3 separate regions of the Homo sapiens genome follow, and regions 1 and 3 are each linked to region 2. Evidence: fine-mapped expression QTL. A gene starts in region 2. Each other region holds a variant in brackets. All regions are shown on one strand. Distances are from middle to middle.

What was found. PIP is the estimated chance that this variant, and not a neighbour inherited with it, causes the effect. A credible set is the group of variants that fine-mapping cannot tell apart.
Region 1: its variant is the best candidate, but not a certain one, in a credible set for the expression of IFIH1 in tibial artery (GTEx, PIP 0.60).
Region 3: its variant is the best candidate, but not a certain one, in a credible set for the expression of IFIH1 in whole blood (TOPMed, PIP 0.87).

What each region holds. Positions count from the first base shown.
Region 1 is chr2:162,468,277-162,472,518 of GRCh38, forward strand. All of the region lies in intron 6 of KCNH7 (potassium voltage-gated channel subfamily H member 7), which reads right to left. Among named protein-coding and RNA genes, the nearest start is that of GCA, 130 kb to the left of the region's middle. The variant C/T (reference allele first, on the strand shown) is at 2,244.
Region 2 is chr2:162,316,658-162,320,899 of GRCh38, forward strand. IFIH1 (interferon induced with helicase C domain 1) reads right to left here and starts at 2,027. Exons shown (of 16, transcript NM_022168.4): 1 at 1,198-2,027. The coding sequence starts at 1,650. It also overlaps a transcript of GCA not described here. RefSeq lists a silencer at 1,822-1,911 and enhancers at 1,942-2,491, 2,060-3,259.
Region 3 is chr2:162,272,748-162,276,989 of GRCh38, forward strand. It overlaps IFIH1 (interferon induced with helicase C domain 1), which reads right to left. Exons shown (of 16, transcript NM_022168.4): 11 at 3,940-4,199; 12 at 1,048-1,197. Among named protein-coding and RNA genes, the nearest start is that of FAP, 31 kb to the left of the region's middle. The variant C/G (reference allele first, on the strand shown) is at 2,215.

The sequences.
Region 1 (4,242 bases), 150 kb after region 2:
AAACATTAAAATAATTGAGATACCAAGATCTAAATAAAAATCTCAATACAATCTGACCTATGTCTTCATACTAAAGAATATAAAGTTATCAAGAAAAAACAAATGAAATTTGCTTATGATCTAATTTCCAGGTTGTTACCTCAAATTATGCAAGGTTATCAACAAAATATCTTGGCAGAAGAATTTAATTTTCTTTTACTATTTCTATATCTTGGGCAAGGTATTTATTCTTTTCCTTTTTTTTTTTTTTTTTTTTTTTTTTCAGACGGAGTCTCAGTCTGTTGCCCAGGATGGAGTGCAGTGGTGTGATCTCAGCTCACTGCAACCTCCGCCTCCCAGGCTCAAGCGATTCTCCTGCCTCAGCCTTCCAAATAGCTGGGACTACAGGTACGTGCCACCATGCCTGACTAATTTTTTGTATTTTTAGTAGAGATAGAATTTCATTGTGTTAGCCAGGATGGCCTCAATCTCCTGACCTCCCAGGATGGTCTCGATCTACTGACCTCATGATCCGCCCGCCTAGGCCTCCCAAAGTGCTGGGATTACAGGCGTGAGCCACTGCACCCAGCCTCTTTCCCTTTTTTTTTTTTTAAAGAAAGGAGCTTGCTCTGTTGACCAGGCTGACGTGCAGTGGCATAATCATAGTTCACTGTAACCTCGAACTTCCAGGCCCAGGTGACCCTCCCTCCTCAGCTTCCCAAGTAGCTAGGACTACAGGTGCATACCACCACATCTGCCTAATTTTTTAATTTTTATTTTGTAGAAGCAGGAATCTTGCTATGTTGCACAGGCTGGTCTCAAACAATTCTCCTGCTTTAGTCTCCCAAAGTTTTGGGATTATAGGTGTGAGCAACTGTGCTTTGCCTTCATTCTTTGTTATAGTACATTTGAAAAGTTAAGGTGGTATGTAATAGCTAAATACTGTTATGAAATTTTATGCTATAATAAAAAGTAAAGCCTTGTCAATTCATATAAACCAACACATTTGAGAGCAAAATCATATTTTAGTACCATAGGTAACACTTCAGTAAACACCAATTGAACAACTATGCTTTTGACCCTGTACCAGAAGTACCGCCAGAGATGTCCTTGAACTCAAGATACTCTTGGGCTGACCTGAGTAGTTTGTATGCAAACCAATAATATTTACCATGTGACAAAGGAAGCAGGAGGAATTGACTACTGTGGGCCATCTAGGGATCTTTGACAACGGTACTAGTTGAGTGAATCTTAAAGGATATGTGCTTTTGGTTTTTGTTTGTTTTCAGTTGGAAATGATATGCTTTTTAGAAGAGTACGTTCCACTATCAAAGCCCGGTGGGGTGAGAGCTGTGGTCCTCGAGCCTTTTTTATGCATAAGGACTACCCAGAAAGCTTATTAAAAGGTAGATTTGCCCTCTCCCTCCCCCTCCCCCTCTCCCTCTCCCTCTCCCCACGGTCTCCCTCTCCTTCTCTTTCCATGGTCTCCCTCTGATGCCGAGCTGAAGCTGGACTGTGCTGCCGCCATCTCGGCTCACTGCAAACTCCCTGCCTGATTCTCCTGCCTCAGCCTACCGAGTGCCTGCGATTGCAGGCGCGCGCCGCCACGCCTGACTGGTTTTCATATTTTTTTGGTGGAGACGGGGTTTCGCTGTCTTGGCCGGGCTGGTCTCCAGCTCCTGACCGCGAGTGATCCGCCAGCCTCGGCCTCCCGAGGTGCCGGGATTGCAGACGGAGTCTCGTTCACTCAGTGCTCAATGGTGCCCAGGCTGGAGTGCAGTGGCGTGATCTCGGCTCGCTACAACCTCCATCTCCCAGCCGCCTGCCTTGGCCTCCCAAAGTGCCGAGATTGCAGCCTCTACCCGGCCGCCACCCCGTCTGGGAAGTGAGGAGTGTCTCTGCCTGGCCGCCCATCGTCTGGGATGTGAGGAGCCCCTCTGCCTGGCTGCCCAGTCTGGAAAGTGAGGAGCCTCTCTGCCCGGCCGCCATCCCATCTAGGAAGTGAGGAGCGTCTCTGCCCGCCCGCCCATCGTCTGAGATGTGGGGAGCGCCTCTGCCCTAGTGCCCTGTCTGGGATGTGAGGAGCGCCTCTGCCCGGCCGCGACCCTGTCTGGGAGGTGAGGAGCGTCTCTGCCCGGCCGCCCCGTCTGAGAAGTGAGGAGACCCTACGCCCGGCAGCCGCCCCGTCTGAGAAGTGAGGAGCCCCTCCGCCCGGCAGCCGCCCTGTCTGAGAAGTGAGGAGCCCCTCTGCCGGGCAGCCACCC[C/T]GTCTAGGAAGTGAGGAGCGTCTCCGCCCGGCAGCCACCCCGTCCGGGAGGGAGGTGGGGGTCAGCCCCCGCCAGGCCGGCCGCCCCATCCGGGAGGGAGGTGGGGGGGTCAGCCCCCCGCCCGGCCAGCCGCCCCGTCCGGGAGGTGAGGGGCGCCTCTGCCCAGCCGCCCCTACTGGGAAGTGAGGAGCTTCTCTGCTCGGCCACCACCCCGTCTGGGAGGTGTACCCAACGGCTCATTGAGAACAGGCCATGATGACAATGGTGGTTTTGTGGAATAGAGGAGGGGGAAAGGTGGGGAAAAGATTGAGAAATTGGGTGGTTGCTGTGTCTGTGTAGAAAGAAGTAGACATGGGAGACTTTTCACTTTGTTCTGTACTAAGAAAAATTCTTCTGCCTTGGGATCCTGTTGATCTCTGACCTTACCCCCAACCCTGTGCCCTCTGAAACATGTGCTGTGTCCACTCAGGGTTAAATGGATTAAGGGCGGTGCAAGATGTGCTTTGTTAAACAGATGCTTGAAGGCAGCATGCTTGTTAAGAGTCATCACCACTCCCTAATCTCAAGTACCCAGGGACACAAACACTGCGGAGGGCCGCAGGGTCCTCTGCCTAGGAAAACCAGAGACCTTTGTTCACTTGTTTATCTGCTGACCTTCCCTTCACTATTGTCCTATGACCCTGCCAAATCCCCCTCTGCGAGAAACACCCAAGAATGATCAATAAATTAAAAAAAAAAAAAAAAAGGTAGATTTCCTGCTCTTTGCCCTCTGAGACTAGGTGAAGCCCAGGAATCTGAATTTTAACAAGCATCTAAAATGAATCCGATGCACTTGGTCTCCTGTGTATATATTTGCATGTTTCTATATGTGTGCATTTGTGTGTATGTATGCTTGTGCTTGTGTGTGTGTATACACGTGTTTGAGAGCAGTCAATGAGAAAGAGCCTTGGAGATGGTGTGGGTGAAGAGGTCTGTGTGGAGCAGATTCTGTGGAGTTTTACGACCTTACAAGGGATGTGAAGGACCTCTTCAAGGAGAAATACAAACCACTGTTCAATGAAATAAAAGAGGACACAAACAAATGGAAGAACATTACATGCTCATGGATAGGAAGAATAATATCATGAAAATGGCCATACTGCCCAAGGTAATTTATAGATTCAATGCCATCCCTATTAAGCTACCAATGACTTTCTTCACAGAATTGGAAAAAACTACTTTAAAGTTCATATGGAACCAAAAAAGAGCCTGCACTGCCAAGTCAATCCTAAGCCAAAAGAACAAAACTGGAGGCATCATGCTACCTGACTTCAAACTAAACTACAAGGCTACAGTAACCAAAACAGCATGGTACTCTTACCAAAACAGAGATATAGACCAATGGAACAGAACAGAGCCCTCAGAAATAATACCACACATCTACAACCATCTGATCTTTGACAAACCTGACAAAAACAAGAAATGGAGAAAGGATTCCCTATTTAATAAATGGTGCTGGGAAAACTGGCTAGCCATATGTAGAAAGCTGAAACTGGATCCCTTCCTTACACCTTATACAAAAATTAATTCAAGATGGATTAAAGACTTAAATGTTAGACCTAAAACCATAAAAACCCTAGAAGAAAACCTAGGCAATACTATTCAGGACATACGCATGGGCAAGGACTTCATGTCTAAAACACCAAAAGCAATGGCAACAAAAGCCAAAATTGACAAATGGGATCTAATTAAACTAAAGAGCTTCTGCACAGCAAAAGAAACTACCATGAGAGTGAACAGGCAACCTACAGAATGGGAGAAAATTTTTGCAATCTACTCATCTGACAAAGGGCTAATACCCAGAATTTACAAAGAACTCAAACAAATTTACAAGAAAAAAACAAACAACCCCATCAACAAGTGGGTAAAGGATATGAACAGACACTTCACAAAAGAAGACATTTATGCAGCCAGCAGACACATGAAAAAATGCTCATCATCACTGGCCATCAGAGAAATG
Region 2 (4,242 bases):
GAGAAAAAAACCATGTGAAAATCATAGAGTGGTGTAGACAAAGCCTTTGACTTTTAGTCATGGCTTTATTTGTCTACATGTCTTCCAAAACAAGACTTTTGACTTACGAGCCTGAATAAGTCACATTCAAACAGGTCAGCATTTATACACATCACAGTACATCTTCACTTATCAAAAAATAATTCATATCACATTCAATGTAAAGTCATCAGTAAAATTCGCCCTGTCAAAATGCTACCTTAAGAAAAATGAGTTTCTTCACTAACATGAAAAACTGAAACTAGCAACACATTCTTTCAATGAATTGTTTCTAAATTTTGATTCTCAAAGAATGTTGAAACTTTGATTAAAGAAAAAGGGTGTGTGTGTGTGTGTGTGTGTGTGTGTGTGTGTGATTGCAATTTACCCATTTGGGCTAAGACTAAATGGCACAAAGTGTAATGTAGGGCAAAGATTGGAAAACTTTTTCTCTAAAATGCCAGATAATAAATATTTTTGGCTTTAAGGGCACACAGTCTCCATCCAATTGCCTTTGGAGTAGAAAAGCAGCCACAAGCAATATGTAAACAAACGAGCATGACTGTGTTCCAATAAAACTTTATGAACACTGAAAATTAAAAATTGAAAAATCTGAAGACCATTCTTAGCCTGTGGGCCTGAAAAAAACAGTAGCAGGCTTGATTTAGCCCATGGGCCGTAGTTTACTAACCCCTGCTCCATGGAACTACATTAAATAAGAAAAACATTCAACACTATCACAAGCTAAATTCTTAGCTCTGCCACTGTTTTTCCTGGGAGACCTTGGACAAATTATTTAACCTGCCTCAGGTTTCTCATCTGTAAAATGGAGTTAATAACATTAGGAGCCTCAGTGGGTTACTCTGAACATGAACTGTAGTAATACATTTTGAAAATGATACCAACTGCACATAGTAAGTGTTCAATAAAAGTTACCTGTTAATACACATTACGATTCTAGAGTTAACTCCTTTTTACTTCAGTGAAAACATTAGAAAAGTAGTTCTTTTGTGTTTAAATTTTTAAAATTGTCTTAAAGTGCCTAGATGTTGTCTTCTCAAAGGAAGAAACTAGATTTGCCCAAAGAGGTCAAGCACATTTGGAAAGGGGCAAACGCACAAGGAAGCCTGCTTTGCAAAATCTGCCTAAAAGGCTAGCTCCATCTGAACAGACACCTACCCGGTTTCTGTCTTCAATTGTCAACAGTTCCTCCTCCATGCACTTATCCAAGACGTCTCTAACTAGAAGCTTGTCCACCAGAGTGGGCTGAAGGAGGTTCAGCAGTTGGAGATATTCATCATGAGCGTTCTCAAACGATGGAGAGGGCAAGTCCGTGAGCTCAGGGTTCATGTAGCGGGCGGCCAGAGGGCTGCCGGTTCTCCGGAGGGCCTCCACGAATTCCCGAGTCCAACCAAGGTGCCAGACTCCCTTCTCCAAGGTGCTCAGCAGCAGTTCAACTGCCTGCATGTTCCCGGAGGTGGCGACTGTCCTCTGAATCTGCTCCTTCACCTCTGCAGGCAGAAAGGTCAGGTAGTCCAGCACAGGCTCCACCTGGATGTACATTTTCACCCTGGCCCTGAAGCACGAGATGAGATAGCGGAAATTCTCGTCTGTGGAATACCCATTCGACATCTTTCTTTCTCAGAGAAGGGAGAGGGTTCTCCCAAGCAGATGGTGCTGTTGTCTGCGGGACAGGTGAAATGTGCGTGCCGCTGTCCGCTGCCCACTTAGAGAAGCAGGGTCTACCGCTCTGTGCCTGACAATGACGAGGTTGTCCACAGGGCTCTCAGGCCGGCGCGCGGGGCTGCACTCGCACCTGGGCAGGTGGGCAGGCGGGCAGGTGGGCAGCGGGGCGGCGCGCGGGGCCGCGGCAGGCAGGTGCGGCCGGCAGGCGCGGCACTTTGGACTCTGCGGTGTGCGCCTGGGGTCCCGGACCGGGGCGATCCTGCTGCACACTCGGGTAGGAGCTTTGAGTCCAGCTTTCTGTCAGGCAGTTCTTACAGAGTTTGCCTGACTTTGGTTTCTGTTTCGATTCTCTTCTCAGGACTTTGTAAACGTAATCTGCCTGGCGGGGAGGGAGTTTCCTCAGGGAGACGCCACCTTTTGGTCGGGGCGGGTGAAGAGAGGAGGCCTTTGGTTAAGGACACCGCGGGAAACAGAAAAGGAAAGCGAATTCTCTCTGACACCAAGACCAACGCTCTAGCAAAGCTCCTCCGGCGGATATTTTGTTTTCCCAGCAGGTTCTGCCTTAACAATAAGGTCCTTTGTAGGCCAAAATGTGCAGGGCATAAAAGCATGTGATTTGGGACTTTCCAAAGGGGAAGTGAACAGAAACTGCCACAGACCCGGACGTGAACAGGGAGTTACCCTCGGCTGGTGAATGTAGGCAGGCCTGGCTGAGGGTGGTGAGACTGCGAGGGACAGGTGAGAGATGAAGCTCAGAAGACATCTTTGCAGAGATGTGGAGAAGACAGGAGGAAGTCCTTCCTAAAATAAACCTGACCTCCTGTGGGTTCCCAAACACTAACTTGTTTCCCTGGGAATTTGGAGGTGGGTTCGAAAAAGTGAGTAACAATAAACAGTTAACTTTACTGCCTCATATTTAGATTGCTGGTATTTATGCAGCTTTGACCAGGACCTGGTAACAGATGTGGATGGACTTGAACCACCAACTCAGCTTAGAAGGAAGCCAAGACTTAAAGTTTCCTAGATCCCAGCTTGTAAGTTCCCTATATTCTTTAATATACAACTTTCCTTTAATAAAACAAAACAAAAAAATCCCCCAACAACTTATTTTTGATATAGCTGCCATTCTTTTCTTGGATTCAATACAGCAAGTTTTGGCTGGAGCAGCTAGGAACTTAATTAGCAACTAATGTACCAACTTGTAGTAAACATCAACATTTGTCTATGTCATGAGAGAAAAAAAACATATTCACACTGAAAAATGGCAGCTTCATTTTGGTACAGAAGCCACATAAATGTGAGTCCTTAAGGTTACTACTCATTCTGAAGGCATTCTGTAGCCACATGTGACTGTGGGTGGTAGGCACATACGCACCATAACTAGAATCTCATGGTCCAGAATTATATAAAGGATGGAGAGATCATTTAGGTTATCAAAGAGACATATTTAGGAAAAATAATCTGTTAGCAAAGTACATTCAATAAAGTCTGTGTAGGCCAGGAAAACCTGATAGTGCTTTGAACAGGATAATAGAAGTACAGAGTCTTGGTGAGTGTTTACTAGGGGCATACAAAATATCCAAATGAGCACTTTATGGTAACATGTCTTATTTTATTCTCTAATTATCTTATGTAGCAAGGCTTTTTCTACCCCTGAAGGATTGTAAGCTGCTTGAAGAAGGGATATATTTACATAGTAACTAGTACACTACTCACAACTGGTGGGCTCTTGATGACATCTCTCCTGGGAGTTGTATTTGAGTTGACCATAGCAGCTGGCATAATGTTAAATACACTGAAAGTTGAAGTAAATGAAACCTTGGGCTTGCAGGTAGGCCTGATTTATACTGTTCTTTTCTGTTTCTTCACAGAACCCTACTCCTTTTTCACTTAATTTTGGGAGATGACCTTGTACCCAGATAGAGGATAATCCAATTAGATGTTTCTACAAAAGCACTCAAATTATTAATTTTAAGTATTGGGTCTATGAAAATATCTTTTAAGGCTGTTGCAAAAACATACTCCTATCCCCCAGCTGCCAGTGGGTTTTATTCAACATGTTAAAGCACAAACTAACAAACCAAAAAACATTCTTTTTCCTGGCACTTATCCTTCTGTTTCTTGGTTTCAAACATGGGGGAATGAGAAGGGGTTGCTGACTGAATATGGGGAACCAGTTAATGTTATTTTCTTCATACCACTTAATTGTTGCTCTGGAAGAGAAAGGATCAAATGTTTGGTATTTGACCTGTTCTCAAATAATAAACATTTAAACCAAAGATATTTAAATATTTGGCATTCAAATTATATCATTCATTGTATCATCTAGTCATTTAAAATATGTTTATTAAGTATCTATTACATGACCAGCACTGATCTAGGTGCAGTTAATAAAATTAACAAAGCTCCTACTTTTATGGAGTTCACATTCTAATGGGAGTGGGAAGATAGATGGTAAGTAATGACTAAAAAATATGCAATGTGCAGGTGAGGATAAATGCCCTGAAGACCATAGTAAATCTACATAATAATGTATAT
Region 3 (4,242 bases), 44 kb before region 2:
GGAATGAATGGAGAGAAGGGTCATCTCTGACCTTGACACTAGGGCTGGTGAGAAGGCAGGTCAGTTTCTGGCATCCTACATTACATTCTTAGCACATTTTCCCATGGGAACATATTTAACATGGTGATAACTTTCTACAAGCCTCTTTATGAAAGTGATATTCAGGTATATTTTGATTAATAGAAACTTCTGTGGCCTGGCCCAGGAGCCTATCAACTATAAAAGTATCCTCAAGGAAAAATGTATTCTAAGTTTGATTACTAAGCTTATCACTGACTTACAAATAGACTCCTGAAATAAAATTATTTGCTAATTTGATGGCAGTCTGGTTATCTTAGTCTTCTATGACTTGCCTTTTATTCAAGGATGCAATTTAAGTTATTTAAAAATCCCTTTAGTTAATTTTATAGGAAGAATAGTGTATCTATTAATCAGCATAACACCTATGCCTACTCAACAGGTTACAATAATGCCATTAACATAGGTGGGTAAGAGATAAAGTGAAATCTGAATGAAAACAGAACATTTCACTCTTTTATTTATTTTTACATTTATAAGTCTGCCCCCAACCAACATTTTATCATGAAAACTTCTAAACACACAGAAAATTGGAAAGGATAAGGGAAGAAAATGCAGAAACAGCAGGGCTCCCTCAGGTTTGGGCATGTTACTTCATCAGACATTTGTGGGACAGTGTACTTTAGATTCCTGGTCCAGCTGGGGGCTCACAGACATCCTAGGAAAGAGGAGGCTGCTTTTGACTCTTACAAATGGGGCTAGTGTCATGGTCCTGGAAAGCCTTAGGGTACAGAAATAGCTAAAGAGGAGTTGTTGTTTAAACATACAACAGGTATCTGGTTATTATATGAATTGACAGCAATATGAAAGGCAACAGTGCACAGCATTTTAAAAATGCTCTTTTAACAGGAAAAAGGCTTTGTTTTAAAAACTAAAAAGATGTTTTTGCTGTTTAACTAAAAGAAAGCAATTAAAATAGGAACACAACAAATAAAAATTAACATAGTAAGTAGAGGTATTTGAATGTACCTGGACCATGGCTATTTCATTGGTGACGAGACCATAACGGATAACAATGTTACATTCTTTAATATCCAGACCTTCTTCTGCCACTGTGGTAGCGATAAGCAGATTTATTTTTCCAGTGCGAAATTTACTAATGACTTCTTTTTGTTCATTCTGTAGAAACATTTTAATAAATTAAATTTTGTGATGCTAAACACATTAAAATCTTCTAATTAGAGGAAGAAATAATAAATTGCAACTGGTCAGTGTAAATCAAAGGATTAGATCATACATGGATTTGTTGCCATCTGTTTTTGGCATTGAACAAAGACATAATGGTGAGACAACATTTGATTTCCAATCTGGGATTACCACACAATAACAAAAATATTTCCATCATCCAGTCTGGAGGTGGGAAGACCACATTTTATGCCAAGGAAATAAATTGATGGGTGACTCCAGAGGAAGAAAGGAGGAGCTGTCGGTTGAGAAGAGGATATGACAATCAGAAGCTAAAATGGGCTTTTTTCCCCCACTACATTAACTTCAGAATCTTTGCTATTTAGAGGATAAGATGCAGAGATGCTTTGATATATTGTTTTCAGTCACAGAGAAAATGCACACTGTATATGCATTTGGTCACTTTAAGAATCATTTGAGTTAGAAGCTATGGAATATTCCCAAAAGGACACAAGAGAAACTGAAAACATCAGCTGCATCTAGGGAGGGGAGCTGGAAGACTAGAGGTCAGTGGTATGCCTTGTGCCTCATTAATTTTGAATGAGGTAAATATATTATCAATTCAAAGGGACAATATAAATAAAAATGAAAGAAGAGGTTATGCAACTGTAAATAAAACTATTTTCAAATGAAAAAACTCTGAATTTTGAAAGTCAATATAAATAAATTAAAATATGACCTCTCATCCTTACATGGGAGAAATGAGTGAGCACAAACCTAGCTTGATATGGACAATGTGGTTTTATTTTCATAACCACTCTCATCAAAGCTGTTGGTCCAGTTGGCATTTGGTGCACATCCACACTGTCTATTGCCCCCATACATTAAACAAAAATAAAGCTGCCAGACCAAAAGTATGTTCTTCCATCCCCTTCCCTTTCTTCTCAGAGGCAGTGTGAGTCCTTATTTGACTCCTACTCCTAACTGTCGGAGAACCCTGTAGAAAGGCCT[C/G]TCTTGAGTCTTCTCTGAAAATTTCTCCCTCCGGCCCTCACATCTCCCGATAAAAACTTACATGTTCTTGGATTTTAGCAGAAGATGCCTGTGTCTTAATTTGAAGGAGTAACTTTAATAACAAAAATTCCAGACAGTGTCAGATCTTCAAGTCACATCACATAGATGCCTAACACCATTGCTAAGGAGTTTGTCCACCCCAGTTTACAAGGTGAGGATACAAGGAGTGGGGAAGGAAGGGAATATGTTCTGTATTTTGGCACACAGCCCCTTGGTTTGAAATGAATAAGGAGCAGAAAGTAGCTTGAACATAGGCTTTTCATTTGCACTCTACCTCTTTTTACAGAGAAGCTTAGCCCTCTTACAATAAAAGTCACAACGCTAAAGTTAATATAATAGAAATTTAAAAACAGAACTCATAAGAATCAACACAGAGGCTGTGAGACTGAACTTGAGTTTTTCCTGCTAGCTTTCTGGAAGCTAAGGCAAAAAGAAAAACATATAAAGCAAACTACATCTCATCAAAAAGAAGGAAGCAAACTTGTTACCCAAGGAAAACAGTACTTTCTCTGGCATTAATTTTATTGGCAATGCTCACAGGAGTGCATGTAGAGGGTATATAAAGAGTTATAGTGAACCATTTCAAGAATTTTTTTCCAGCAAACACTGAAACAGAATTAATTTGCTCCATTGGCTTGAATAGTGATAACTATAATAGAAAGGAAGTATCCATTTGTCCAGAAAGACTCAGGGTCAATGTGATTTTAGCCCTCAGAAGAATATTTTACTCTAACAAGGCATCATTGCTTCATGCATGCTTGTAATGTCTACTAGTGCCTTTTTTTCTTACCCAAGTGTTTTTTTACTATGCCCACAGTAAGCAACATGTAAACAAAGTAAAACAAAACACCTTAAAATGGAACAGAAAACCTACTTACCAGAATCCCAAATCTCTAATATATCAAATTCTTTAGTTTTTTCAAGTTTCCCTAGAGGTCTCATTCTATGTAAATATATTTTGCATAGTTCTAGTTATAACGAACACATTTTTGTGGGAGTTTGAATTTTCCACTTGATACTACATGGCAATCATTTCTGAACTTTGTTGTTAAGCTTACATGTCACTTATTTTTGCAAGGGAAACTTAGAAAGTTCTTCCAATTATTATGTGGGAAAAATGACTCCTAAAACAACACTTAACCTCTCAAAAACCACAGATTTGATTGCTATTAGCCTTAGATTTTATTTCAAGAACAGGTGTTTTATCCTGTAAATGTATTCATGGGTGGTGAGAGGATTGGTAGAAAAAGACTAAAAACAATTTGAGAAGAGTAATAACAGCATAAGAAAAGAAGTCCAGGCTGAGCGCAGTGGCTCGTGCCTATAATCTCAATACTTTGGAAGGCAGAGGCAGAAGGATGGCTTGAGCCCAGGAGTTTAAGACAAGCCAGGACAACATAGTGGGACACCTTTTCTACAAAAAAGATAAAAAAATTAGTTGGGTGTGGTGGTGCACACCTAGAGTCCCAGCTGCTCAGGAGGCTGGGGCTGGAGGATTGCTTGAGCCTAGGAGGTCAAGGGTGCAGTGAATCTTGATCATGCCACTGCTCTTCAGCCTGAGTGACAGAGCGAGGCCTCGTCTGAAAGAAAAGAAGAAGAGAAGAAGAGAAGAGAAGAAGAAAAGAGAAAGAAAAGAAAAGAAGTCGTCCAAAAGGATATTTATACCTGTGTCATGGGTTTGAACTCACTGCTGTGTCCAGCTCCAATCAGATGGTGGGCTTTGACTCCTACTTCAGCAAATTTTTCATTTTCAGTAATCCACTGGGAAAGCGCATATGCACTCTGTCGTGTTTTTGTAAAGATTATTCCTCGTGCTGATTCCTCAGTCCTAGTATATTGCTCCATTATGGTATTTCTTAATTTGGTCAGCTTTTCATTTTCATATTCTGGGTTTTCAGCCAGCCTTTTCAACATTTTATTGTTTTCTTTAAGAAATAATTAGAGTTGATATGTTAACAAGCTTGATTT